7 separate regions of the Homo sapiens genome follow, and all the other regions are reported to be linked to region 1. The links are microRNA targets in miRTarBase. Many come from high-throughput screens and were not tested one by one. Region 1 holds a microRNA gene; each other region holds the end of a gene's coding sequence. Distances are from middle to middle.

The links. Region 1 holds the annotated microRNA hsa-miR-4738-3p (UGAAACUGGAGCGCCUGGAGGA, at 2,597-2,618, shown strand). A microRNA usually pairs through its seed, bases 2 to 8, with sites in the 3' UTR of a target mRNA and lowers its output. Matches are read on the target gene's strand: a 7mer-m8 pairs with bases 2 to 8, a 7mer-A1 pairs with bases 2 to 7 and ends in A, and an 8mer does both.
Region 2: miRTarBase lists NUMB as a target of hsa-miR-4738-3p. Seed matches in the 3' UTR shown: 7mer-m8 at 2,719-2,725.
Region 3: miRTarBase lists PTPRT as a target of hsa-miR-4738-3p. The part of its 3' UTR that is shown has no 7-base or 8-base seed match.
Region 4: the mRNA of DDN is a reported target of hsa-miR-4738-3p. Seed matches in the 3' UTR shown: 7mer-m8 at 2,078-2,084.
Region 5: the mRNA of RNF213 is a reported target of hsa-miR-4738-3p. The part of its 3' UTR that is shown has no 7-base or 8-base seed match.
Region 6: miRTarBase lists PIGW as a target of hsa-miR-4738-3p. Seed matches in the 3' UTR shown: 7mer-A1 at 397-403.
Region 7: miRTarBase lists DUSP16 as a target of hsa-miR-4738-3p. Seed matches in the 3' UTR shown: 7mer-A1 at 2,810-2,816 and 8mer at 3,964-3,971.

What each region holds. Positions count from the first base shown.
Region 1 is chr17:75,783,083-75,787,147 of GRCh38, reverse strand. It overlaps MIR4738 (microRNA 4738), which reads left to right and starts at 2,541; the gene lies at 2,541-2,627. It overlaps UNK (unk zinc finger), which reads right to left and starts at 2,342. Exons shown (of 16, transcript NM_001080419.3): 1 at 2,164-2,342. The coding sequence starts at 2,267. RefSeq lists enhancers at 1,092-1,669, 1,681-2,080, 1,670-2,248, 3,811-3,990 and a silencer at 2,141-2,280.
Region 2 is chr14:73,272,868-73,276,932 of GRCh38, forward strand. It overlaps NUMB (NUMB endocytic adaptor protein), which reads right to left. Exons shown (of 13, transcript NM_001005743.2): 13 at 2,349-4,065. The coding sequence ends at 3,711. PAPLN (papilin, proteoglycan like sulfated glycoprotein) reads left to right here. Exons shown (of 27, transcript NM_001365906.3): 27 at 1-1,756. Among named protein-coding and RNA genes, the nearest start is that of PAPLN-AS1, 29 kb to the left of the region's middle. RefSeq lists an enhancer at 3,661-4,065.
Region 3 is chr20:42,077,165-42,081,229 of GRCh38, reverse strand. PTPRT (protein tyrosine phosphatase receptor type T) reads left to right here. Exons shown (of 31, transcript NM_007050.6): 31 at 298-4,065. The coding sequence ends at 351. The region is part of intron 2 of LOC101927182 (a long non-coding RNA gene); the gene reads right to left. Among named protein-coding and RNA genes, the nearest start is that of CHD6, 460 kb to the right of the region's middle.
Region 4 is chr12:48,993,208-48,997,272 of GRCh38, forward strand. It overlaps DDN (dendrin), which reads right to left. Exons shown (of 2, transcript NM_015086.2): 2 at 1,942-4,065. The coding sequence ends at 3,533. Among named protein-coding and RNA genes, the nearest start is that of DDN-AS1, 3.1 kb to the right of the region's middle. RefSeq lists an enhancer at 2,259-2,553 and silencers at 2,259-2,553, 3,760-4,065.
Region 5 is chr17:80,392,858-80,396,922 of GRCh38, reverse strand. It overlaps RNF213 (ring finger protein 213), which reads right to left. Exons shown (of 68, transcript NM_001256071.3): 68 at 1-3,578. The coding sequence ends at 3,425. The region is part of intron 1 of RNF213-AS1 (RNF213 antisense RNA 1); the gene reads left to right. Among named protein-coding and RNA genes, the nearest start is that of ENDOV, 20 kb to the left of the region's middle. RefSeq lists an enhancer at 1,153-1,654.
Region 6 is chr17:36,538,329-36,542,393 of GRCh38, forward strand. It overlaps PIGW (phosphatidylinositol glycan anchor biosynthesis class W), which reads left to right. Exons shown (of 2, transcript NM_001346754.2): 2 at 1-975. The coding sequence ends at 288. It also overlaps a transcript of MYO19 not described here. Among named protein-coding and RNA genes, the nearest start is that of GGNBP2, 4.6 kb to the right of the region's middle.
Region 7 is chr12:12,473,614-12,477,678 of GRCh38, reverse strand. It overlaps DUSP16 (dual specificity phosphatase 16), which reads left to right. Exons shown (of 7, transcript NM_030640.3): 7 at 1-4,065. The coding sequence ends at 846. Among named protein-coding and RNA genes, the nearest start is that of DUSP16, 87 kb to the left of the region's middle.

The sequences.
Region 1 (4,065 bases):
AGGACTAGGGGATGAAGTTTTCCAGGTCATCACAGCTTCTGAATGCTAGTAAGTCTAGCAAGAAAGACCACTGATTTCTATCTCTGATTTTTGGAAATACAAATATAAAAACACACATACATATGAACAGACAAAGAGATAAGAACACCTACAACCTCCCATCAAGCTTGGCTATTTCACCTACTCCTGTTGATTTCCTAAGACACCTCAAGAGCCAGGTCCCATTACTCTATACTTACCCACAAGGAATGGAAAGGCAGGCTTTTTTTTTGTTTTTGTTTCTGTTTTTTGAGACGGAGTTTTGCTCTTGTCGCTCAGGCTGGAGTGCAGTGGCACGATCTCGGCTCACTGCCACCTCCGCCTCCCGGGTTCAAGCGATTCTCCTGCCTCAGCCTCCTGAGTAGCTGGGATTACAGGCGCCCGCCAGCACACCCAGCTAATTTTTTGTATTTTTAGTAGAGACGGGGTTTTGCCATATTGGGCAGGCTGGTCTCTTCACTCCTGACCTCATGCGATCCGCCTCGGCCTCCCAAAATGCTGTGATTACAGGCGTGAGAGCTACCACGCCCGGCAGGAAAGACAGGTTTTAAACAAATGAGCATCAAGAGGACAAAGACTCAGATACTGACATTTAATCAGCTGTTCACTTGTTTCACCTGTCAATTCCAAAATAAGAAAGCCTTTCTATTACAGATTCCATAGTATGCTCAATGACAACACAACACAGAAACACAAGTTGCTGAAGCCAAGACTCTCGTGACTCAAAATGTGTTTATTTTGCTAAAAACAGTGATCTGAGCAACCAGAGATTATAAAGAAGTTCCAATTACGTGAAGTTTCCAGATTCGAAAATCAAGACTACACCATTCAACTCATCAGTAGTCTTTGAGCTAAGAACATCTCACCAAAATCAATGGAAAGACTGCGAAAGATCTCCAGTAAGAAAGGACCAGGAAAGCAATGTCCATATCAGAAAAGGAATGGTTAACGTGAGTCAGACTGTAGTCAAGAAGCTTAAATGATTTCAGCCAACAACAAAGAATCCCACAAAGAAACCATACACTTCCTATAACCAATGTTCCCCAACCCCAGAACAGTTTCCCAAGGTCTTCTATAACAAGAGTTCCTCCTGACTGGTTTGAGTTCTTTCTACTCCAACAGATGATTCTGTTCTTCGTTCACTGAACAACTTAAGAGCTGTTCAACCCCCCAGGTTCCAAAACCTCTCGCAGCTGGGGATCCTTTTAAACATGCACATCACTCAGGAGCCCATGGGGATGAGAGGCATTCACAGAGCATCAGGGAAAATGGAAAGCAACATTTTGCTTAACAGGAGAAACCGCCCCTTATTCATCTTTCTCCCACATCACCTAACTCTAGGGAATGCTTAACGTGGCTTGAAGGAAATGAAGACAGCGACCTAAAAGCACACAGATGCAAGACTTCCAGGAAGAGGTTTTCCCATCCTGCTGGACTCCTGTAGTGTCAGTATTTGGGGCTCCCTCTAATGCTACATTTCTGCTGAGCCTGCAGACATACTTGGAACCCATCACCTTCGGGCTCCCAGACTCAGGCTCCGCACAGCCCGCGAGGGAAACGGTCATGGGCACGCACGGACACGTTTCCATCTTTGCATGTTTATCTACGTCGACTGTGAATTCAAGCAAGTGTGGCCCTCGTGGACAACCTACGAGCCTTAGGGACACAAAAGGCTTCCTGCGCAAACTGCACGGAATCTCCTGACAGGACTTCACGTTAATCATCATTCATAGGTGGGTTCTGGGGCTGGACCCCACGGAACTCCTCTTGGTTGTGTCTTGGACTTCTCACTGCCCCAAAGGAGCCTACTACTGTGGTTTTATGGTCTGAGGAACAGTTAGGCCTCGAAGGCCTGGCCTAGGGAGAGTGCACTCTGCATCCCGAGCTCCCGCCTTCCCCACTCGGCGGCCGGGACCGAGTTTCCCGCCCCACAGCCCGACCAGAGGTTGGTGGCAGTTGGAGGCAGTTGGGACCGGCCCCAGCAGGTTGGAACCGGTCTGGGCCGGGCCGGAGGAGGAAGGGGGGGAGGAAGAGGCCGCCTCGCGCTCTCCCTGCGCGCGTGACTCACGCTGGCCGCTGACGTCAGGCGTGCGCGCGCGGCGGGGGGGGGGGGGCTCTACGTACGTGTAGTGCTGCGGTTTCTCGGGCTGTGCCTGCAGCACCTGAGCGGTAGCGGCCGGGGGCGCCGAGGAAGCTGCGGAGCCGCCGGGCCCGGGGCCCTTCGACATGGTCTTGTCTTCCTGCCTCTTCGCCGCTCCCCTTTTATTATTCAGTCTGCGCGGTCCGCGCCGAGGACCCAGTGCGCCTGCGCCGCGCCACGAGAACGTGAAGACCCCCCACACGGCAGCAGGGGTTGCTGGGAGTTGTGGTTCTATGTCCGGCTGGAATTTTACCGTCGGCAGAGGGTTGCTGGCAAAGCACAGGACCACAATACCCAGGGATCCTTGCTGCTAGTGTCCCGGATGCTGAGGGCCTGCGACGGCTTCTGGGAATTGCAGTCCGGTCGCATTTCTCCTTCTTACCAGCGCGTTTTCAGTTTCATAGGGAAGCCTTTCCATGAAACTGGAGCGCCTGGAGGAGAAGGGGCCCAGAGCTAGGGAGGCCCTAGCGATTTCTGCGAAAGAGTTCCAAGTATAATTTCACTGCCAACAGTGTCATAACTACTTTGCCTTTATACTTAGTACAGCTAGGTTCGGTTCTAATGCCAGCTCAGAGCAGTGCTCCAAGCAGGGCTTAAGAATCTGTGTTGTCGGTTCTTAGTTCTGGGCCCTGTGCTGCAGGCACCTGCAATCCGCCAGCAACCCCTTCATCCCTGCGGCGGGTCTAACCTAAGAGGCATTGAGAAAGCTTTGCTAAGGAGGAGGTACACCGCACGCTACAGTTCCCGCGCCTTTGCCGAGGCGCTTCATTTACCTTTGCCAAACTCGACACCTGGAACTCCACGACTTGTGTGCTTTCTCAGCCTGACACCTGGCCTGACCAACTTGTTTCCAGTACATTAAGGGCCAAGGACGAATTTAATCTCCGCCTAGAATAGTCTCTGAGGTACACTGACAAGTTGCCAGTGTTGAGAAGCATCACAGGGTCCAGAGGAAAGGCCTGGGTTTGAGTAGGGCGTGCCCGTATTTATCCACTCTAGTTTTCTTGTCTGGACGTCAGCCTTTTTACTTGGGACATTATCTTTCCCCTCTCTGCTTCCCACCAGTCAAGCAAAGTTCTTCACTTTATAAAATAAGCCAGATGCCCCAGACCTAGGCATTTGTTTCTGTGAGTTTTAGAATGTTCTCCGTAGATATTTTAACCGTTGTCATTTAATTTGGTTTTTCATATTGAATCTATTTCAAATCCACTGGTTTTGATTTATATTTTCTTAGATGGGATTATATTAACAAATGATTATCTCATTAAAGAAACACATTCCAAATAACCTTAGGGATGAAGGGTGGTGGGGCTAATGGAAAATCGTTAATGTTTGAGTGACACATACTTATTTTATTTAGCTCCAAGTTCCCTCACATCAGAAGCCACATCACAGAGTTGAGAAACTGGTTTTTCCTAAACAGGCTAAATCGTTTAGCCACTAGGGGCGTTTGAAAATGAAAAATTACAAAAGGACAAATAAAAGTTGTAGTATATTGCTTTAATCCTATGATTAAACGCAAGTTACTTGGTTTATGTTAGCCTCACAATACTCAAGTGTGATCTGACTGAAGAAATAGAGTTCACAGCACTGGATTTTAAATAATAGATGTATATCATGAGCTTCAGAATAAGTGTGTACTGGTGGAGTTGGGAGATGATATCATCCAAACTGCTTAATTTACAAAAGAGGAAACCGAAACCCAGAGAAGCTAAGTAACTTGCACAAAGTTACTCAGCAAGTTGGTAACAAGAGGAACTAGGACAGTAGCCTACAAGACTACATCACATTCACTGTTGGGTTTTGTTTGTTTTGTTTTCTTCTGCTTTTTTTCATTGTATAAACATTTTTTATTCTTCCTCATTTCCTGTGTTGCTTTTCCTCCG
Region 2 (4,065 bases), not on the chromosome of region 1:
CTCTGACATAACCACAGGCTGCTGTTTTCAAGAAGAGCAATCTGTTTGGATAAGAAAAACCTTTACTTTACAGCTTCCCTTTATAATTTGTTACACAGGAATAGTTAAATGCATTTGTTTGTTTGTTTTTTGAGACAGAGTTTCACTCTTGTTGCCCAGGCTGGAGGGCAATGGCGCGATCTCAGCTCACTGCAACCTCCGTCTCCTGGGTTCTTGATTCTCCTGTGTCAGCCTTCTGAGTAGCTAGGATTACAGATGCCTATCACCATGCCTGGGTAATTTTTGTATTTTTAGTTGAGATGGGGTTTCACCATGTTGGCCAGGCTGGTCTCGAACTTCTGACCTCAGATGATCTGCCCGCCTCAGCCTCCCAAAGTGCTGGGATTACAGGCATGAGCCACCACGCCCAGCCATCAATGCATTTTTTTTATTTTTTTTTTGAGACAGAGTTTCGCACTTCTTGCCCAGGCTGGAGTACAATGGTGCGATCTTGGCTCACTGCAACCTCCACCTCCTGGGTTCAAGCGCTTCTCCAGCCTCAGCCTCCTGAGTAGCTGGGATTACAGGTATGTGCCACCATGCCTGGCTAATTTTGTATTTTTAGTAGAGACGGGGTTTCTCCATGTTGGTCAGACTGGTCTTGAACTCCCGACCTCAGGTAATCCGCCCGCCTCGGCCTCCCAAAATGCTGGGATTAGAGGTGTGAGCCACTGTGCCCAGCCCATCAATGTGTTTTAAAGCTAGCTGTCAGGGTTCCACTTAATTTAAAGCTGGGCAGGGAGATGTGTAATGATTTCAAAGTTAACACCTGTTTGTTTTCTAAAGGGCATGCCAAGTCCTGCTGTATCAGGGAAGTATTCTGTGCTAAAATCAGCGATGGTTCATTGCTCTAGTCTCTCTCACCCTTCTAGGCAGTGCATCAGTCAGCTCTAAATCTGGTGCAGAGGGTTAACAGCATAACCCTTGTTGGCAAAATGGAATAGATGTTAAGACCTCAAATAGGGATTTGGGATGAAACAGCTGCAGTTAGCACTGTTATCTGAGCATGAAAGAACTGGAAACGCTCCTTACGTCGAGATGTTGGACCTTGAAGCCCTCCTGAGGCCAACATGCAAATCTGGCTGTGACGGTTCATCTGACACCTGTGTAAAGCTGACCAGCCTGCTCTGTACAGTGACAATGAGGAGCCCCTCTCTTCCTTAAGTAGGAATCTGTGAAGCAAAATGTTTGCTGCCAAAGACAAATCAGACTGTCAGTCATTAAAAACAGCATTAGCAGGATGAGGATAGCAATGGGGAAGGGTTGTGGGCAATGCAGTAACAGGGAAATGGCTTCAGAAATGGTTTGAGTTGGAAGACAACATTCTTCATCTCTCAGGACTTCTAATTCCTTGATGCTAAAAGAAGAGGCATGGATTCTATGAGCTTCCAAGTCCCTTTCCACTTTAACCTTCTACAAATCTTTCAGAGGACTGCCTAGTAGCAAAGGTTATTCCTGGACACAGGAAAGACGGGCATTACAGGGACCAAAGCTCTGAAAGGTGACTTTTATTACCAACACACTGGCTGGAAAAGGGACAAACCACATCACGGGTGAGTGATACTTCTCAGTCTTCTCTACTCATTCAACAAAGGAAATGTGGGCTGGGGCAGAGGTCTTTTTTCATTTAATACTGGAAAAATATTGAAGAGCATCCATGTTCACTTATGGCTGGTTTTGCTATAGAAATTGGAAAATAAAGGCCACTTTTTTGAAATCCCCAGTTTAATTAAACCAGATTTTGGCCTATTGGTATAAACACATCAGAAGGTAAGTTTGAGGTTAGCTAGCAGCTAACTAGTTCTAATAGAACCAGTCACAGAATAGTGGGCTAAGATTAGAGGTAAAACTCATTCTAGGCCAGTGGTTCTCAACTTTACCATATTGCGAGCTTAAAAAAAAAAAACACAACCTGGGGGGTCCCCCTGCCCCACTAAAATTTTGATTTAATTGGTCTGGAATATAGGCCAGGCGTTAGGATTTTAAAAAGATATCCTCAGGTGATTCTATTGCATAGCCCAGGTTGAGAAGCACTGCCCCACCCCGCTGAGATTCTGCATTTCTAACCAGCTCCTAGGTGAAGTCCATGCTGCTGTTACAGACCACACTTTGAGCAGCAAGAATCTGACTTTAGAGATACACTCAGGATTAAAGTATGAATGAAAATATGAATCTTAAGGGTATTTTTCTAGTCACTAAACTAGGGATTTACAGCAGCAGTAGAATGGAGAGTAAGACCAAAAGAACGAAAAATAAATTCATTTACTAATAAAGGAAAGGGGAAAGAACAGCCCTTCATGGGCAAAAGCTTCTACCATGAACATTTATTTTTGTTAAAGCAGATTATAAATTTTCATCAGTACAAATATATATAACTTACATTTGATTGTAAGGCCAACGTTCAAAAGTAAAAATGAGATGAGCTCTCTTATTGTTATCCGAGGTCAAGAGGCTGCAACTGTCAAGGGGATGTTCTCACCAAAAGGGGGTTTGGGGGAAGAGGACACACACAAAGCTAATAAAACCAGAATCCCCATCCCCACAAAACTCATGGGAACAAAATTTAAAGGATAAAACAAAACCCACCAAGACCCATATTACAAACCAATATGGTAACCTGTGTTCCCTTCTATGGTATGATTATGTCATGTTACCTTAGTGTTAAAGGATTAACATAAGGAAACTGCAGCAATATATAAAAGATATATTCTCTATAGAGCATATTTCGATTGATTCCATTAAAATAATGACATTAGAATTCCATCATAGGTTTAAAACCAGGACAATACTGCTTTTCCTTTATTTAAAAAAAACTACAACCTAGTGACTGTATTGGTCATAAGCATGATTGTTGTTGCAATGTGCTACTTACAATGAATGACTGACAGAAAACAAGCTAGGGATCCTGTCTGCAGCTTCCAGCCTTTCCTCTTTTTATTTCAGTAGGCATCAATGATAAATCAATCTTATGTACAATTTCTTACAACTAGCCCCTTTACCTTTGGCAAGATTACTTACAACTCATACAACTTCTTAATATCTGAGAACTATTTAAAATATTCTAAATGCATAAAAATAAAGATTTTGGCTTTTGATATATATAATATTTATTCTGTTACTCAAAATGGAAGCTCAACTTCTCCCCCAAAATATAGCTCTGCTGGGCAGTTGCTGATATGCCCTCCTGGGAATTCTGGCAGCATAGCGTGCCTCTCTGTTCCCCAGCCTGAGCACAAACCACTCTTCTTGATCTCTAATACAGGCCACTACTGACAGGAGGCAGGTGAATGGCCTGAAAAACAAAGGGAGATTGCTTTGCTTCCTGTTGTGTTTTACATTTCAGTAAATGTGCTTGGAATATAGATTCTTGTTCAGATACTTTGCCTCTCTGTTGCCAGAGATTTGTAAGGGGGTAAGGGAAGAGGGAGTACAGAAAGCAACATTTCCTTGACTTCTTTAGCCTAATTGCAAGGCAGCTTTTCTCTAGGAATGCTTTTTCCCATGTCTTTCAAAATCACCCCTCACAGTACTCTGGGCCTGGACTTGTTCCTTGGGACCTTTGGGATTAGTGAAAAGAGTACTAATCAGGAGACAAAGTCTGTTTTGCTCCTTTGACCGCTACCCCCTGCTCCCTGTCTGGTATGGACAAGATACATAGCCATAATGATTGCTTAAAGTTCAATTTCAAACGTCTTCTGTAAGTCACTGGAGAAAGGGTTGGTAGGGGAGGGATTAGTACGCTGCTTGGACTTATTTTCTAATGCAGCCCACTGGGCTTCAAAAGGATCCACTGGGCAGGTGCCTGTAGGAACCTCTGTATGCCTGTCTGCTGAGGCCAACCTGCCATCATCTACACCATTGAAAGCTGCAGAACCGTTGAGGTGCTGAGCAGGAGGCTTAAAGAAGGGACTGGTGGTAGCACTGCTTGCCTCGTAGTGAGGGAATGTCTGCTGCCTGACCAGGCTGGGTGACTGATGGGGATGGGCAGCCTGAGGGTGGCCTGCAGTGCCAAATACGTTGGCCACC
Region 3 (4,065 bases), not on the chromosome of region 1:
AAGATTTCTGGCTGCCTTGTATGCACGTTACAGTTTGAGAAGCCCTGTTGTACAAAACAGTAAAAAAGAAAGGGAATGATGCCAGCTGGGCATTCGAGGAAGCTTGGGTAGAAGCAGGCATCAAGCAGAATTTTGAAGGATGTCCAGATATGGGTAATTTTGAGTTGACATAATATGGATATAGAAAAAGTTTTCTCCAAAATCTGTATCTCTAAACTAAATGCATTTTCCCTTTCCTTTTTCATCTCTCTCGTCTCCTCTTCTCCCTCTCTGCCTCTGCTCCTCTCCGCCTCTCAGGAACAGTATAAATTTGTATACGAGGTGGCACTGGAATATTTAAGCTCCTTTTAGCTCAATGGGATGGGGAACCTGCCGGAGTCCAGAGGCTGCTGTGACCAAGCCCCCTTTTGTGTGAATGGCAGTAACTGGGCTCAGGAGCTCTGAGGTGGCACCCTGCCTGACTCCAAGGAGAAGACTGGTGGCCCTGTGTTCCACGGGGGGCTCTGCACCTTCTGAGGGGTCTCCTGTTGCCGTGGGAGATGCTGCTCCAAAAGGCCCAGGCTTCCTTTTCAACCTAACCAGCCACAGCCAAGGGCCCAAGCAGAAGTACACCCACAAGCAAGGCCTTGGATTTCTGGCTCCCAGACCACCTGCTTTTGTTCTGAGTTTGTGGATCTCTTGGCAAGCCAACTGTGCAGGTGCTGGGGAGTGGGAGGCTCCCCTGCCCTCCTTCTCCTTAGGAGTGGAGGAGATGTGTGTTCTGCTCCTCTACGTCATGGAAAAGATTGAGGCTCTTGGGGGTCACTGCTCTGCTGCCCCCTGCAACCTCCTTCAGGGGCCTCTGGCACCAGACATTTGCAGTCTGGACCAGTGTGACCTTACGATGTTCCCTAGGCCACAAGAGAGGCCCCCCATCCTCACACCTAACCTGCATGGGGCTTCGCCCACAACCATTCTGTACCCCTTCCCCAGCCTGGGCCTTGACCGTCCAGCATTCACTGGCCGGCCAGCTGTGTCCACAGCAGTTTTTGATAAAGGTGTTCTTTGCTTTTTTGTGTGGTCAGTGGGAGGGGGTGGAACTGCAGGGAACTTCTCTGCTCCTCCTTGTCTTTGTAAAAAGGGACCACCTCCCTGGGGCAGGGCTTGGGCTGACCTGTAGGATGTAACCCCTGTGTTTCTTTGGTGGTAGCTTTCTTTGGAAGAGACAAACAAGATAAGATTTGATTATTTTCCAAAGTGTATGTGAAAAGAAACTTTCTTTTGGAGGGTGTAAAATCTTAGTCTCTTATGTCAAAAAGAAGGGGGCGGGGGAGTTTGAGTATGTACCTCTAAGACAAATCTCTCGGGCCTTTTATTTTTTCCTGGCAATGTCCTTAAAAGCTCCCACCCTGGGACAGCATGCCACTGAGCAAGGAGAGATGGGTGAGCCTGAAGATGGTCCCTTTGGTTTCTGGGGCAAATAGAGCACCAGCTTTGTGCATAATTTGGATGTCCAAATTTGAACTCCTTCCTAAAGAAACCCAGCAGCCACCTTGAAAAAGGCCATTGTGGAGCCCATTATACTTTGATTTAAAATAGGCCAAGAGAATCAGGCCTGGAGATCTAGGGTCTTGTCCAAAGTGTGAGTGAGTCAATGAGAGGGAACCAACATTTGCTAAGTCTCTACTGTATGCCAGGGATCATGCTTGGCACTTTCCATAGGACATTTCACACAGTCCTTAGAACCCCCAGGAGAGAGCTACTGACTTGTTATCATCTCCATTTGATCATCTCCTCCAATGAGGAAACCCACGCACCTTCCTTAGTAATGAAATCCTGGGTTCCAAAGGGGCAGGTAATGGCAATGAGACTTCTCCGTGCTGTTTTCTTCATCTTCTCTAAGCCAAGCAATTATTTTATGGAGGGAAAATAAGGCCAGAAACTTCTGAGCAGATAACTCCACAAATGGAAATTTAGTACTTTCTTCCTGATGCCAGTTCTTCTGGGAAGCGCAGAATTTCAGATATATTTTAGTAACACATTCCCAGCTCCCCAGGAAAGCCAGTCTCATCTAATTTCTTAGTCAGTAAAAACAATTCCCTGTTCCTTCAGGCTATGAATGGACCAGCCAGGGAAACTCTCGACCTTGATCTCTAGCCAGTGCTTAGGCCCAATATCTGACAGCCTCAGGTGGGCTGGGACCTAGGAAGCTCCATCTTGAAGGCTGGTCTAGCCCCAGACAGGGCATGAGGGGCAGAGAATTCAAGAAGGTACAGCTTTGGCCCTCAAGAGCCCACTGTATGCTGGGGAAATGGAACCATGGTGCAGTAGTGTGGAGTGGATGAGTGTTCCATGAGCCTAGGAGCAAGAAAGTCTCTTCGGCCTCGGGCTTCCTGGAGAAGGGGACGTCCATTCCTGCTGGGTCTTAACAAGCATAAAAAGGAAAAAAAGGAAACTCAGGCAAAGGGATCCATATGTGCAATGGCAAAGAAATGTGAAAAGGCATTGGGAGAAGCAGTCTGGGGGAGGCCAGCCCAGTGCGGGCACAGCACAACACGGGGAGCAGCAAGAGATGAGCCAGGGTCCAGGAGACAGATGCCCATCGCGAGTACAGACTTTGTCCTATTGGCAACAAGGAGTCCATGGAGCTTTAGAGAGATGCACTCAGCTTCGTGTTGGCCAAGACTCCTTCTGGGCCAATGGGGCTGCCTCTTTTCCTTTCATCAGACACTGTGAAAACATTCCCTTAAGCGTGCACTTTTTAATATCACATCTATTTGTCTGTCTGCTCATTGTTTTGTTGCTGGAACTAAATATGCAATGGATCATGAGACTCAGATTCTATGAGAAACCCAGGGTCTCTGCTTTACCACGGAGCAGGGTCACCAACCCAGATCTCCAGGCCCATGAGGATGGAACATGAAAGGAGCCGACAAAAGTTGCTTCCATTGGCATGGGCTCTGGAGCTGTCCAGAAGTCCAGGGACACCAGACTTGATCAAGGAAGGGCTGTCACTTTAGAGGTTCAAAAGGAAGTGCCTCAAAGCAAAGGCAAGCAAAGGAACCCCACGATGAACTTGCTCTTTTCCTTTGATGAGCCTCTCCCCAGGTGTATTTCAGCAGACCCCGGGGACCCACCCCCACTGGGCCTGCTGGCCTCCCTCGGCTCCAGCCCAATGCCCCAGCTGGCCTTCCCCAGCCTGCAAGGAGCCTGTAGCATGGCAAATCTGCCTGCTGTATGCTATTTTCTTAGATCTTGGTACATCCAGACAGGATGAGGGTGGAGGGAGAGCTATTTAACACAAATCCTAAGATTTTTTTCTGCTCAGGAAGGGGTGAAATAGCTGGCAGATACAAAAGACAGTGGCTTTTATCATTTTAAATGGTAGGAATTTAAGGTGTGACTTCAGGGAGAAACAAACTTGCAAAAAAAAAAAATCTCAGGCCATGTTGGGGTAACCCAGCAAGGGCCAGTGATGATTTCCCCCAGCTCATCCCCTTATTTTCCCACAACCCAACCATTCTCTAAAGCAGGACAGTGAATAGGTCTTAGGCCAGTGCACACAGGAAGAAATTGAGGCTTATGGATGGGGATGACTTCCCTAAGATCCCATGGGACAAGGATGTGGCAAGGCTTGGATGAGATGGGGCACCAGTGCCCAGGAATTTGAACATTTTCCTTTACCCAGGAAATCTCCGGAGCCAACACCACCACCCCCAGGGGGTCTCCCCACCCCACCCCATTTACAGGGTGAGCTCAGCCTGTCATGAGCAGAGGAAAATATTATTAATGCTCTCTGAGTCTTTACAACAGGAGCTCTTACCTCATAGATGTGGGCTCTGTTTGGGGAAGATGCAAGGAAGTAATGAGAAGCCCAGGAAATTTCTCCACCTGTGTTTATGGCCTAAATAGCTTCAGGATGTATCTTAGCTGCACTCCAACATTGCATCCTTTCTGGGGTGAAGAATCTGGGCCAACCAGGGGTCCTTGGGCCTCTAGAAGGCCACAGTAGGCCTCTCTTTGTGGGAATGGAAGGGGACAGTTTGCTTTTAGTGCTGGCCCTCTCTGTGGGTGTGGCCTGCAAAG
Region 4 (4,065 bases), not on the chromosome of region 1:
TTCCACTGTTGCATACAGCTCACCTCCTCTACCAGTCCCAGAGCTCTAGAGCCCTTTGGTTGTAGAAAAATCTAGGCAGATGCTTTCATCACTGCCCTGGTCTTTCTCAACTTTCTTTCTTTTTTTTTTTGTTTTTTTTTTTTTGTTTGTTTGTTTGTTTAAGACAGAGTCTCACTTTGTCACCCAGGCTAGAGTGCAGTGGTGCGATCTCGGCTTGCTGCAACCTCCGCTTCCCAGGTTCAAGTGATTCTTGTACCTCGACCTCCCCAATAGCTGGGATCACAGGCATGCACCACTACACCCAGCTAATTTTTGTATTTTTAGTAGAGGTGGGGTTGGACCATGTTGGCCAGGCTTGTCCCCGTCTCAGGTGATCTGTTCACCTCAGCCTCCCAAAGTGCTGGGATTACAGGTGTGACCCACCACACCCCGCCCTTCCTCAACTTTCCCCTTCACCTGAAGTCCAGCCTCTTCCCAAGCCTGAAGGTCCAAGGCACATACTCCTCAGCTGGACCAGGCTTACCCCAATCTGGCCTCAATTTTCACTCTTGCCTTATCTTCTACAACTGCCATAAATGTACGCTCAACTGCAGGCAAATCAGACCATTGAGCAATTTCCTAAACATACCCTGCTTACCTGCATCCATGCCTCTATTTTGGCTGATCCCTCTACTTGAAATGCCTCTTCACCAAATTCTACCGCTGAGGTCATCTCCTCCCCTCCATGGAGCCTTCCCTTATCTCACAAAATCCATACGATCTCCCTTGTTTGACTCCTTGTAATACTTAACACATTGCTCACCTTCACCCCATTGTCAGAAAGGCCTTACTCATCCCTATCCTGTATCCAGCACAGTTTCTTGCTCCCAGTAGGTGCTCAGTACATGCTCATAGTTAGAATTGGTAGTAGGTAGATGGAATTGTAGGTGAAAGGGAGACAGGTCTCAATAACCTTTATTTGTTTGTTTTTTTTTGAGATGTGGTCTGGCTCTGTTGCCCAGGCTGGAGTGCAGAGGCCCAGTCTTGGCTAACTGCAACCTCCTCCTCCCAGGTTCAAGCAATTCAGCGATTCTTGTGCCTCAGCCTCCTGAGTAGCTAGAATTATAGGTGCACACCACCACACCTGGCTAACTTTTGTATTTTTGGTAGAGACAGAGTTTCACCATGTTGGAGGCTGGTCTGGAATTCCTGACCTCAAGGGCAGATCTCAGGAACCTTTGATCTCTGCCCAAGGTGACACTCCTCCAGCTAGAGCTAACTTGAAACCTGGCAGTCCGGGTTCCTGGAAGTCTCTGGGATGAATCTTCCTGGATAGCTCTGACCAGTGTCTTCCCTCCGGTTCAGAAACCCAAAGAGGACACCTTCCTCCACTGAACCAAGGCCAGCGGCCCAGCTCCTGTCAGATCGTCGCCACCCCCCACCGCAGGCGGTCCTGCCCCACTCCGAGTTCTGCCCAGAGTCCCTCTGGGTGCGGGCGGGAGTGAGGTCGAGATAATTGGAGACTAAAGCCATAAGTGGTTTGAGAGCGGGGTTGGGGACCTGAACGCTGAGCGGGAGTTGGAGTTGAGGGGTCTGGGTTGGAGTGGGAGCAGAGGCGGGCAGGGGGCCGGGGGCTGGGGGCCGGGGCAGGACCGGGCGACTGAGTCTGGGAGAAGCCCCCGCGCCCGCGGAGCCGGCAGCTAAATTTACCCCGGCTGACTCAGCCCTTGCCCGGAATGGGGGGTGGGGGGAGGGCGCCAGGGCAGTGGGAAGAGCCGACAGGGGTGGGCTGGGGGCAAGGAAGGGAGAGTCCCGGCTGGGGGAGAAAAGAGGTGGGCCAGGAGCTCCCAACGAAGAAAGCAGCCCCCTCCCCTCACACAGAGCGGGAAGTAGCAGAGGAGTCCCGGGGGAGGGCCACTGTGGGGAAAGGGTCAGTGAAAGGAAGACGATGCCAAGGCTGGATAAAGGGAAGCTTAGATTTATTGAGCGCCTACTGTGTGCCAGGCAGTGTGCAAGGCGCTTTACATACATTATCGCATTAAATCCTCACAACAACCCTGCGAGGTAGGTGTTTATAAACCCCCATTTGACAGATGAGGAAACTGAGGCTCAGGGAGGTGAAGTGATGTGGCCAAGTTCACATGGCTAATAAATGGCAGACAGAGGAGGTGTCCAAGGATCGGAGAGAAAAAAAAAAAGACTTCGGTGTCTGAGTCCCAAGCCGGCTGGGGTGGATGAGTACAAAGATGGGCCCGGCGGGCTCTAGAAGTCTGGGAGGCCGGAGGCCTGCTCCCGGCCCCGCACGGCTGGAGACTGCAAGGCGGGGGACCCGCGCTCGGGAACTAGGGATAGGATTGAGTGGCAGAGCCGGGATTAGCAACTGGGGAGATCCGCGACCTGCGCGCGCCCTGTAGTGGCTATAGAGAGTATCACACCCCACGCCTGCTGGCTTCTGGTGACCGGCCTCTTTCCTTGCCTGGCCGGTTTCTGGAAGAGGCCAAGATGGGAGAAATTCTCAGGATTTTTTCAGGTGGGCGATACCACCTGGGAGGGAGATCGTGGCCACGCCTCAGAGCATCACTAAGGAGCATCGGGGTGGAGGAAAAGGGGAAGGCCTAAAGAGGTCCCAAGCTGATTCATTGGTGTCCTTCCCTCCCCAGCTCAGACCACCACAGGCCAGGGTCAGTGACAGGGCCGCTATCTTGCCCTGCCTTGGGGAGCCCTCAACCAAACCTGGGAGACTGGGATAGGAGTGCCTCACTCCCTTACCTCTTCTGCAAGCCTTGGGCAGTCTCCTGAATTGATCATGACTTTGGGTGACACGGAGGCCGCCCAGAAACCCTCAAACTCTGTTCACTTATTCCCAATTCTCATTCTTGGCTTGTCGAGGGGAGGATGAGATAGAGTCCTTTCCAAAGATCTCAAAATGTCAGAGACGGAAGGATGGACCTTAGAATACCATCATTTTATATACCAGGAGGCCTGGAGGCCTGGAGAGGGAAAGTGACTGGCCTCAGTCAACCAGCAACTCAGTGGCAGAGTTGGGATTGAAATCCAAGACTTGTGACACCAAGGTGAGCCCTCCTTCTGCTTTGTTGGTTGTTGCTGGACCTATGCCTCTTCTCCCAAGAACCCCTCTGTCATCTGATCACTCTGTCACCAGGTCCAAAGCCTCTCCTTCACTTTTTCCCTCCTCCTCAGAGGCCCTACCCTACCCTGCCCTCCTATGGCTGCCACCATCCCTGCCCTCCTGCCTGATCCTGGTTAGGCCTCTCTGCTCAGCTCCACACCCAGTGCATCAGCCCCTGCGAAGAGCTCACCCTTGTGCCCTGAACATAACAGACATTAATTAAATCTGCTCATTCTCACCTCTCCTGAAACAAAATCATTAATGGGCATATGCTTCCCTTCCTTTCATTTATATTTCAAGGATGAGAACAGGTATGGGTAAAGATACAAGGAAAAGAGAAGCAAAGGAAGTCTGTGGGGAAGAATGGGGACCAGTGGACCCAAGGATGGATGCGTTGGGGACACAAATACAAGAAGGGGCCTCTCACTGCCTCTTCCTATTTCCCTGTTGGGTCCCTCTGATGTCCCTCACCCCGAAGAGGACCTCCTCGGTTTGGCTTATGACATCTAGGATCTCCCCGACACTGTCGCTCAGTTCCGCTGTCTTCCCATCTTCCTCTGGCGAACTGTTTCCAACCTCGGGCAGGGTCCTCTCATTCCGCCAGGAGGCGCCCGGGGCTTCTGTGTCGCTTCCATCAGAGGAGCCGCTATGGACGCTGAGCTCCTCAGCTTCGTCCGTGTCCGAGTCAGGGGCTGTGTGGCGGCGGATACGGGACACGGCTTCTCGCAGGGCCCCGGCGTAGGGCCCTGGGGTCCGCGCCCAGCCCCGGCCGGCGCGCCGCTGGACCACCGCCACTTCCGACCCCTCGGCTCTGCCCTGGGCTCCCGAAGCTGCTGGGCCTAAGGCTTGGTGCTCTGGGCTACCTGGCTGCGTGGGGGCGTCCCGCAGGTTTACTTCGGGGGCCGGGAGCCCCAAGATGCGGAAAGTGCGCTCCTCCAGTGTGGAGTCCCCCGGCC
Region 5 (4,065 bases), 4.6 Mb from region 1:
GGGGCAGCCTGGTGGAGCACTTGCTGGACCCAGGGCCCCTCCAGTCTCTCCTGCTTCCCCCTGCTTTGGCCCCAGGTTGCTTTCGCATACACCCCCACCTCCTCAAAAGGGCTATCCCCAGCATATCCTGCAGAGAGGGTGATTAGGTGTGACTTCTGACCAAAGTTGCTCTGGTTGGGGGGGGGGGGTGGGGGGGAAATGCACTTTCCTGGCGCTTGTTTTTCCAGCTGGAAACGGGATTCGTAATGGTAATGGTTGAACTTAATGAACGTGATAGGATGAGAATAATGCAGAATGCAATATAAATGCTAATCATGGCTTGGATTGTTACTCAGCTCGAGGCTCAGGTTTTCTCCAGCCACCTCCCCAGTTATGCAACCTTCACACTTTATGTATCAAATCAGAGGTGTTTTCCTTCAGCACACTAGTGCCTGTGTGCATGGCTAGACTTGGGTGGCTTTACCTACTTGGCCCTGAGCTGACATTTTCTTCCCAATATTTATCACTGGAAGTTTGTTTCTAAATTGGAATTGCCTGAACATACAGGAGTAACTGAAATAGCTCAGGGCCGTCTCGGTTAACACATGCACAAAGTCTCATAACTATTCATGAAAGGCAAATAATTTGCACACACAATAAGGTCCTTATTTTATTTTTTTTTGAGACAGGGTCTCACTCTGTCACCCAGGTTGGAGTGCAGTGGTGCAATCATAGCTCACTGCAGCCTCAAACTCCCAGGCTCAAGCAATCCTCATACCTCAGCCTCCCAGGTAGCTGGGATTACAGGTGTGCACACCTAATTTTTTCAGTCAGGTCTCAAAGAGAAGGAGATAATGATCAGTTGTGAAGATTTTCAGGTAAATCACCACCAAGGTAGGGCTGAAAGCAGAAAGAACTCTGCAGCAGGGAACTGTCCAGGGAGGCGGGTATGAGTGGGAGTGAGGATGAATAAAGGGTTGGGAGGGGGAAGGTCAGGGTTGGTGATGAGGCATCCATGGCGGAAACGGGAACTGCAGGGTGAGGTGAGGCTGGCGCAGGGCAGACAAAGTGAGTCTTCCGGTGCAGGCCAGCATGCCTCCTCTTCTTGCTGTGGTTCTAGACCACAGGTTTCTCGCCTGGAAGAACCTTTCCTTTTTGGAAGAGAAAATGCAGTTTTCCCCCTGAAGGGGCATTTTTAGCACTCCAACGTCAGTGGGCTCCTGGAAGGGTTACTGTTTATCTCTTACCCCGCAAGTGGACTCAGGGGTGAAGTTAGTTAGCTCCTACCTGTACCCCGTTAGCTGCAGCCCCGCTGTGTCCAGTGAAGTCATTTCAGGCAGGGCATGGGGGACTCCTTCTGAGGCAGAGGTGTAAGCGTTTCAGTCCCAGATCGGCTACAGGGAGTGGCGCTCAGCTCCACTGTGGAGTCGCCAGGATGCTGTCATTTTGTCCAGAGGAAAAGTCCACCGTCTCACATGTGAAGGCAGAGCCTGTTTTCTGTGTGCACAGTCTGAACACACTACTTCATGGGTGCTTCTAAAGGACATTTCCACAAAGAACACAAACGATTCCCAAAAGCCTAGCTGATGTCTATGTGCCATAAATAGAAGCTCTGCCCCCAGAGAGAAGAGTTCTTTAGCAGCAAAACTCCAGTTTATTAAGACAGGTGTGACAAGTAAAATAAAATTCATTTTTTTTTTTTTTGCCTCTGCTAGGCCAGTATATTTCTGTACAAACAAGATAATGCAAGATTTGACAGTTAAGGCTTTGAAGCACAGCACACAAAATGAAACAATTTAAAACCCCTTCATAAAAATGGGAAAAATTCCCAGGCCAAAGGAAAAAAAAAGCCTTCACAGAAAGAGACTGACACTCGACTCCCCCCCTGCTGAGGTGTGGCCAGTGAGTCTGGGTGTGAGCTGCCACCTGACAGCCAGCTCTGAGGTATCAAAGGAGCTCCGAGTGCAAGTTGAAGACTTCAGCAAGCCAGCCCCCGGCCCCCACACCCGTTCATAGGCAGTCGGAATGCAGATCTCGGTGGCAGGTGGCTCTGCACAGTCCAGAGTGATAAAACAATCACAGATGACTAAATGCCAGGGACTGTGTGAAGTCAGTTACTGCCTGCAGTCTGGGTCACTCTGCCCTTCATCAGACACTGGTGGCACCATGACAGTGAGGAGAACGGAGCACAGTTCCTTCCGTGCCTCCTGCCGGCGCTGCTCAAGGTGTGCATGGCTGAGTCCTGGACAAGCATTTTGTATTTTTGTAGTTCTCACTCCTTAGGCCCAATTTCAAGTTAAGTCGTTAACTCATTTAGAATGAATATTAAGGATACTGCCTCTAACATATCAATAGCTGTGCTGAGCTGTCTAGGAAGAGAAATTAGTCCAGAGAGGTCCTAAGTATCAAAGCAGATTTTGTAAAGAAAAAAGGCAACACGTCAGTGAGAAAAGCAGCACAAGATCCGGGCTCGGGGACTCTTTTCCCTCTTTCCGAAACATAACTGGTTTTGTATGTGCTCTGAGTCCTAGTTTTTATGTCTTGGCTGAGAACCACAGAAAGGACTAGATATTCATACATGCGAGAGCACACTGAGACTGCATGTTTATTTGGCATAATGCTAGAAAAAAGTCCGCAAAGAACTGCCAGAACCAGGCCTGTGACCAAGTTTACAGTCATCTAGTTTCTCTCACAATTTCAAAATGTCAGATCAGAAGAATCTTTGGCGATTAATCCACTCTCCATTTTATGCGTGAGAAAACCAAGGCCCTGATGGTGTCCCTGGTCCAAGTCCAGTGCCTTTCACAATGAGGCTTTTGGCTCTTACCCTCTGAAGTGGGGCAGTGGCTCACTGTGAGGGGAGAGGGTCAGATCTTGTTAGTTTGATCTTAAGGCACTCACAAAATGCCCTGATTTTTCTTGTCTTTGTGAGAAGACAAAAAACAGTCTGGTAGTTTTTCACATCATCGTGGGAACCCAGAAATATATGTACAGTACTCAGAATTTAAGGGAATGGAAGAAAGAAGAAAATGAGATTCTCTTTTGTGAGTACAGAATTAGAAGAAAAAAAAAAAGAGGGGTGGGCAGTGCCAGAGGCGAACGGGCACAGGTCATTACTGCGTGTGTGGCTGAGCTACAAGTCTCCTGGAATGTAAACAATGTTGGTTTATTTCCAATTTCATCTAATCTTCATTGTCATCTCTCAATGAACAGTACTCATAAAATGATGAGAAAGTTTCAGAACATGTATGTACATGGTTCAGAAACAGCTCGGCTTTCAAAAAGCTGTCAGCTCAGGTAGCACGCCTTGGTCTTGAATTCGGTGCTACGCTGACAGCTCTCCTTCTGAATGCAAAGGCACCAGTCCATGATCAAGTCCACGCCGCAGACGAGGAGAGAGGAGTCTTCTCTCCAAAGTCATCCAAAGATAGCTGAGGAAATAATTCTATCTCATTTCTCGATTCCATTTCAGCACAGCAGCTGTTTTCCACACTGAGACACAGCTGGCGAGCAGTATCTCTTCTGGGAACTGAGATGCCATTTCAGGAAGAATTTCACTTTCTTTAGTTTGCATGTAACTTACGAGAGTGTCTCTCAGGCTGAAAAACCAAAGAAGAGAGCATTTAAAACAGTCTCCTCAGCATGGTGGCTCACGTGTGTAAGCCCAGCACTGTGTGGCTCACGTGTGTAAGCCCAGCACTGTGGGAGGCTGAGGTGGGTGGGTCAGTGGAGGTCAGGAGTTCAAGACCAGCCTGGGCAACATGGCGAAACCCTGTCTCTAGCAAAAATACAAAAATTAGCTGGGCACGTGGTGGTGTATGCCTATAGTCCGAAGCTACTCAGGAGGCTGAGGTGGGAGGACCACTTGAGTCCAGGAGGTGGAGGCTACAGCGAGCTGAGATTGCACAACTGCACTCCAGCCTGGGCCACAGTGAGATCCTGTCTCAAAAAAAAAGGCTCCCATATAACATAAGGGGACCAATCAGTCCCCTCATGTTACTTTTTCCCGTTGTCATCAGCAGAACCAAAATGCTCGTTAAGACTTAAAATCCTAGGCCAGGCGCAGTGGCTCACGCCTATAATCCT
Region 6 (4,065 bases), 39 Mb from region 1:
TCTTGGAAACTTATCCAGTCACCTGTTACAAATAAAAAGCATTCAGAATCTCTAGTCCCTGAAGCCGAAAGAATGGAACCCAGTCTTTGTTTAATCACAGCTCTAAACAGAAAACAGTTAATATTTTTCTTGCTGTCAAATATAACAACTGGCCTGATCAACCTGATGGTAGATACATTACACAGCAGTACCTTGTGGGCCTTATTTGTGGTCAATCTCTATATGTTTTCCAACTGTTTAATTGTATATGTACTATATTTGCAAGATAAGACTGTACAATTTTGGTGATCAGCAGGAGTAGGATATATAAGTATTTGGGCAATATTTAATGAGGAATATTAATTGTAAAGAAATTGTGCTTTTGGCAACAGTGTTAACCATATTTTATTATAAAATAGTTTCAGTCATCTAAACAGCAGTGATGCTTAATTATTTTTTTTTTTGAGACAGAGTCTTGCTCTGTTACCCAGGCTGGAGTGTAGTGGTGCCATCTCAGCTCACTGCAACCTCCACCTCCCGGGTTCAAGCAATTCTCCTGCCTCAGCCTCCTGAGTAGCTGGCACTGTAGGCATGTACCACCATGCCCAGCTAATTTTTATATTTTTAGTAGAGATGGGGTTTTGCCATATTGGCCAGGCTGGTCTCAAACTCCTGAACTCAAGTGATAACACCCACCTTGGCCTCCCAAAGTGCTGGGATTACAGGTGTGAGCCACCACACTGGGCCAATGCTTAATATTTTAATGTATCTCAACAATAAAACCAAGAAGAAACAAAGCCTTTTGACTTGTTAGAATGTATTAAGTAGTATTTTAAAGAAACTTTATAGTTGTGACATTGAAAGACTGTTGGGGTGGGGGGAGGAAAATTTTTACTTTCCATCTTAATGTAACCTTATGCTATTCTGTATTTTTACTGTATATTGCTTTTACAATAAATATAAAATGAAATGTTTATGTTGACATTTCAGTGTGAACTGTGGATTGTCAATACTTGTTTATTGCTCAATTTAAATTTTTGAATAAAACCTAGGACTAAGAAGCAAGTGTTTAAAATCAAACACTCCAATGTGCAGATGGGTGGATATAAAAAGAAAAATTTTAAAAATAAAATACTTATATACTATGAAGTCAGACAGTTAAATGCACCAAAGAATAGATGGAAGGCTGGGCATGGTGACTCACGCCTGTAATCCTAGCACTTTGGGAGGCTGAGGTGGGAGGATTGCTTGGGCCCAGGAGTTCAAGACCATCCTGGGAAACAGTGAGACCCTGTCTACAAAAAAAAAAATAGACTGAATTGGATGTTATATTATAGCTTATACACATAATAATTACGAGACAAAGTTTTGCTTTGGGATTAATTCATCTTTTAGCCTACCCTATGCTAGGGATTTAAGAAGCACAGCACAAATTTCCTGATACCTCAGAGCTTGCAATCTAGTGGAGGAAACAGACATTAAACATCTATTGTGAAATGCTAAGTTATGAAGAAAAAGCATAGGTTGTCAAGAGTGTCAAATCAAGAACTGACCTAGTAAGGAGTCAAGTTTTCCCCACAGATTTTTTTTTTTTTTTGAGCTAGAGCTGATTAGTGGGATGAGGAGTTATAAAGTCTTATGTGTCTGGGGGCTGGGGGGCAAATGGCAGAGAACATTATAGATGGATGACTCCCTCAGCAAAAGTCCTACGTTGGGAGGGCACCAAGCACATAATGGAATTGAAAGAAGGCTGAACACAGAAGAAGGAAGAGCATGGGCAGAGAGCTGGAGAGGCAGGCAGGGGCCACATCAGGCATCCTCACCTACCATGCTAAGGGAAAGGAGAACCAATAAGAAAGATGAGAGTCATCAAGTACCCAGTGTAATTTAATAAAACTATGGCTAAATTAAGGTTTAATTTAAATCTGTAAAAAATAGAGATGGGGTTGCCCAGGCTGGTCTCAAATTCCTGGCTTCACGTGATCCTCCCATCACAGCCTCCCAAAGTGCTGGGATTACAGGCGTCGTGATCCTGGCCTATAATGACGTTTAATATTCTACTGTCTTTTTTTTTTTTTTTTGAGATGGAGTCTTGCTCTGTCTCCCAGGCTGGAGTGCAGTGGCACAGTCTTGGTTCACTACAACCTCCGCCTCCCAGATTCAAGCAATTCTTCTGCCTCAGCCTCCCGAGGAGCTGGGATTACAGGCACACGCCACTTCGCCTGGCTAATTTTTGTATTTTTAGTAGAGATGAGGTTTTACCATGTTGGCCAGGCCAGTCTCGAACTCCTGTCCTCAAGTGATCCGCCCACCTTGGTCTCCCAAAGTGCTGGGATATAGGCATGAGCCACCGCACCCAACCAGGTGTGTTTATTTTTGACAGATAAAACAGAACTTCCCAGTGTCAGCTCATGAAAAAGAAAACCCAATCCACAGATCCTCAGGTTTAGGTCACTATGGTAATTTAAATAACATTCTGTGGCCATAGATTGTCTTACCACATAAAACTGTGGTTATTATAATGAAACAACAAAAAGTCTTCTAATCAACTATCATTTTCCTTGCAACTATCAATTTTTGAGGGCAGAGGAGAGGGAAAGATAACAAAGTGAGGAGTAAGAAGAACATAATCTGTCCAGGACCTCAGCCTATCTATGCCCTTCAGAAAGTGACTCCCATAATTTTAATTTTTTTTTTTTGAGGCGCAGTCTTGCTCTGTTACCCAGGCTAGAGTGCAGTGGCACGATCTCCTGCCTCTGCCTCCCGAGTAGCTGGGACTACAGGTGCCCGCCACCACACCCGGCTGATTTTTTGTATTTTTATTAGAGACGGGGTTTCACCGTTAGCCAAGATGGTCTGGATCTCCTGACCTCGTGATCCGCCTGCCTCGGCCTCCCAAAGTGCTGGGATTACAGGTGCGAGCCACCGCACCCGGCCAATTTTAATTTTACACAATTATAAACTGGGGATGTCTACTACACGTGCCCCAGTAGCTCTTGTGTGCCGAAGATGACAACCAGTTTTATTTTTATTGAGCATAAATGTCCAATGTATTTATATAAATCATACAAGAACCTTATGTTCCTCCCTAGGAGTTTAAATATAGTCTATGAAGCTAAGACATAATAAGGAATACCTTGGTACTTTTCATTTTTTTTAAACCTAGGTAGCCTGGAGAACAGATAGATCTCATTTATGCCTGCATTTTGTGGCTAGCGTCTCACACATTTGGACCTAAGAAAAAGAATGGTAGTTTGCTGATAATTTATTACAGCTCCGTCCCTCCAACTGTTCTTTATTAGGTACCAGCAAAATGTGTTCTGCTGTTGATTGCCTTTACTTTCCTGGCCTTTCAAATCCTTTGAACTTGCATTTCACAATGCCAATATCAAAATGAAATAATAGGCAACAGACAACTGTCTTTTAATGTAGCAATTATATATTTCGTCAATTAGAGGTTTGCTCTCTAAAAGCAGATACTTTTCATTTTAAAGTACATAGGATAATTCTCAAGAAGTATTTGCTGCAGTACTGGTGGTTATGGCTAAAAATAGAGCAATAGTGAAAATAAAAATAAGTGCCTACTCTAAAACCAGGAAGATGCACAGTGAAAACTTTGAAAAATTATTTTGCCATGAAATAATTTTCTAAGCGTTTTCCTTGGGATATTGATTTTATTGTATCGATTGTATTATATTGTATGGTATTAGATTAGATTAGATTGGATTGGATTTATAGCACCCAGGCTACCTCCTTGAGAAACAGCAACTTACCTAGCAAATCCACCTTTTTCGCCTTTAAGAATACGTTTTCATTGAATTCCTATTTGTCCAAAGATACTAAGTATGCCCGGTGGACCTAAGAGACAAACCCAAATTAGGGAAAGTAAGCTCAGATGGAAAGAGACCTTTGGGATTTCATTTTATTATGTTTTATATATGTTTTAATACCTTTTCACAGATTTAAATCCCCAGGGTGAATACTCCCTTCTTTGTTAGTACCTGGCGTGTGTTCAGTAGTCAAAGTAATTAAAATTAGCACCTATATAATGAGCTTGTCATTTTTAATGTTCTTTACCAACCAGAA
Region 7 (4,065 bases), not on the chromosome of region 1:
CTGTCCGCAGACAGGCTGGAAGACAGCAATAAGCTCAAGCGTTCCTTCTCTCTGGATATCAAATCAGTTTCATATTCAGCCAGCATGGCAGCATCCTTACATGGCTTCTCCTCATCAGAAGATGCTTTGGAATACTACAAACCTTCCACTACTCTGGATGGGACCAACAAGCTATGCCAGTTCTCCCCTGTTCAGGAACTATCGGAGCAGACTCCCGAAACCAGTCCTGATAAGGAGGAAGCCAGCATCCCCAAGAAGCTGCAGACCGCCAGGCCTTCAGACAGCCAGAGCAAGCGATTGCATTCGGTCAGAACCAGCAGCAGTGGCACCGCCCAGAGGTCCCTTTTATCTCCACTGCATCGAAGTGGGAGCGTGGAGGACAATTACCACACCAGCTTCCTTTTCGGCCTTTCCACCAGCCAGCAGCACCTCACGAAGTCTGCTGGCCTGGGCCTTAAGGGCTGGCACTCGGATATCTTGGCCCCCCAGACCTCTACCCCTTCCCTGACCAGCAGCTGGTATTTTGCCACAGAGTCCTCACACTTCTACTCTGCCTCAGCCATCTACGGAGGCAGTGCCAGTTACTCTGCCTACAGCTGCAGCCAGCTGCCCACTTGCGGAGACCAAGTCTATTCTGTGCGCAGGCGGCAGAAGCCAAGTGACAGAGCTGACTCGCGGCGGAGCTGGCATGAAGAGAGCCCCTTTGAAAAGCAGTTTAAACGCAGAAGCTGCCAAATGGAATTTGGAGAGAGCATCATGTCAGAGAACAGGTCACGGGAAGAGCTGGGGAAAGTGGGCAGTCAGTCTAGCTTTTCGGGCAGCATGGAAATCATTGAGGTCTCCTGAGAAGAAAGACACTTGTGACTTCTATAGACAATTTTTTTTTCTTGTTCACAAAAAAATTCCCTGTAAATCTGAAATATATATATGTACATACATATATATTTTTGGAAAATGGAGCTATGGTGTAAAAGCAACAGGTGGATCAACCCAGTTGTTACTCTCTTAACATCTGCATTTGAGAGATCAGCTAATACTTCTCTCAACAAAAATGGAAGGGCAGATGCTAGAATCCCCCCTAGACGGAGGAAAACCATTTTATTCAGTGAATTACACATCCTCTTGTTCTTAAAAAAGCAAGTGTCTTTGGTGTTGGAGGACAAAATCCCCTACCATTTTCACGTTGTGCTACTAAGAGATCTCAAATATTAGTCTTTGTCCGGACCCTTCCATAGTACACCTTAGCGCTGAGACTGAGCCAGCTTGGGGGTCAGGTAGGTAGACCCTGTTAGGGACAGAGCCTAGTGGTAAATCCAAGAGAAATGATCCTATCCAAAGCTGATTCACAAACCCACGCTCACCTGACAGCCGAGGGACACGAGCATCACTCTGCTGGACGGACCATTAGGGGCCTTGCCAAGGTCTACCTTAGAGCAAACCCAGTACCTCAGACAGGAAAGTCGGGGCTTTGACCACTACCATATCTGGTAGCCCATTTTCTAGGCATTGTGAATAGGTAGGTAGCTAGTCACACTTTTCAGACCAATTCAAACTGTCTATGCACAAAATTCCCGTGGGCCTAGATGGAGATAATTTTTTTTTCTTCTCAGCTTTATGAAGAGAAGGGAAACTGTCTAGGATTCAGCTGAACCACCAGGAACCTGGCAACATCACGATTTAAGCTAAGGTTGGGAGGCTAACGAGTCTACCTCCCTCTTTGTAAATCAAAGAATTGTTTAAAATGGGATTGTCAATCCTTTAAATAAAGATGAACTTGGTTTCAAGCCAAATGTGAATTTATTTGGGTTGGTAGCAGAGCAGCAGCACCTTCAAATTCTCAGCCAAAGCAGATGTTTTTGCCCTTTCTGCTTCACTGCATGGATACAGTTGGTAAAATGTAATAATATGGCAGAATTTTATAGGAAACTTCCTAGGGAGGTAAATTATGGGAAGATTAAGAAAGGTACAAATTGCTGAGGAGAAGCAGGAAACCTGTTTCCTTAGTGGCTTTTATCCCCTCGGCATGCGATGGGGCTGATGTTTCTATGATTGCCTCAGACTTTCACATTTACTAGTAGGGCTGAGAGAGGCTTTAGTGAGGAAGGAATATTCAGAATAAAACGGTTGAGAAAGCTGAGAAGACCATTGAGTTTTGATCAGTTGTGAATAGAGTGCAAAGCCATGGCCAAGCTGTTTTTGGAAACGCTGGCCGGCGTGTCTTCAGTGGAAAAAGCAAATCAAAATGGAGCGAGAGCAAAGGGGCGTCCTCAGTCCTCAACCTACAATCACTGTATGGAATCGGTCCTGGCAGCTGAACATAGGAGGTCACTGGAACAAGTGATAGTGCAGATTGGCTTTCAAACATCCTCCTGGCTTGAGTTTTATCAGCTACAATGTGGGTCCTCTTTTGAAGCCTTAATTCACAACAGCAGCTTTTTGGGGGTGGGGCTGGGCGGGTGTTGTCATTGTTCTTTCCCTTCCTGTAAGTGTCGCTAGTTGCTGCCTCGTATCTCAGGTTTTTCTCTGTTTTTGAGAAATGGACAGTTTTTTGACCAGGATGTGACTTCATGTTTCCTATGGTGACTTCTAAAACCAGCACAGAATGATATGACTCAACACAGACCGACTTGGTTATGGGGATGATGAGCCGCACAGACCTCACTAGTTGTGCACAAATAATGTGCTATGATGGGGTGTAAAGTGAAGGCAGAAGAGGGTCAGCCGCATTGTTATGATACTGGGAAAGTGCTGGTCAACGATTTGAGTTAGTTTTTAGATATACATTGAAATCTTTAATCAGACATTCTCAAGTTTCACACAGTAGTTTTTGATGTTATGTACACACACACCAAATGTGTAACAGTTCACCACTTCCAGAGTGTGGTCATGCCCAAAACATGTTTAAGAAAGGAAAGCAGTAGCTCCTTGCTAACGATGTTTCAGGAGGTTTGGGGGACTTGGTTTTAATGAGCTTCTGTCATTTAGGGCTTCTCTTGGCCATGGTCCCCCTTCCTTCTGGAACTGTGATGTAGTCACATCCTACAGCCTTTAGTGCTGGTTCACTAGTGTCAGATAATCAGTTCTTGGAATCGAGACTGCCGTGGCGAAGGGGTGGCCTCGGAGGCAGGCTCTGGAGCTGCTTGGATGTCTTTAGGTGGGGTGGTGGCTGGCTCTCTTCAGCATGTAATTGGGGAAACCCTCGCGTCTACTAGGGGTGATACAGATGGTGATTTTAAAGAGCAAAACTAGACTTCTATGTGAGAAGTGCTGGAAAATGATTTAGGACATGTGTAAAGTTAGATGGAAAGACTGTAAATGTTTAATATGAATATAGTGTTCTTTTGAAGTAAGGCCAGCTGTTGAACGGTTAAACTGTGCATTTCTCATTTTGATGTGTCATGTATGTTAATGTATGAAATGATTAAATAAAATCAAAACTGGTACCTGTTTATACATAAATACGAGAAAAGACCTATCTTTGCAGCCATAAACTCGGTGGGAACACCACCACTCAAGTTGCCAAAGGAGGCAGTGGTGAAACCTGTCCTGTTCTCACTTAAATGAGGATTTAGCTCAAAATAAAGTGGTGGTGTCATCAGGTTTATTCCGTGTTCTGTCATTCACATGGAACACCGGATGATTAGCTAACAGTTTAGTGCCAGCCTTCATTCTTTACTGTGTACGTTAAATGCACACTACAGTGAAAAAGCCTAAGACACTTGGTAAATATTTTCTAGCTGACTGATTCCAGAACACACAAGTACATGGTAGGAAAAAAAAGGCCAGCTACACACACATGGCCCATTTCGATATAACATGTAAATGATGTTACGATTCCTACAGGAAAAACAGGAAGGGCAATTGTTGAAGAGCTGTCCTTTGTCCTTGCCACATACATCTCAACAACCTCTCTGCTCATGACACTAGATTTGATGACTTATGAGACTAGAAACTTAGTCTCATCAGTTTCATAAAAATTAGGCATTGAAGGAATAAAGCTTCAGTGCAAACAGATGGAATATTGACTACAGAAAGAATCACAGGTGACCTTGAAGTTGGTTGAGT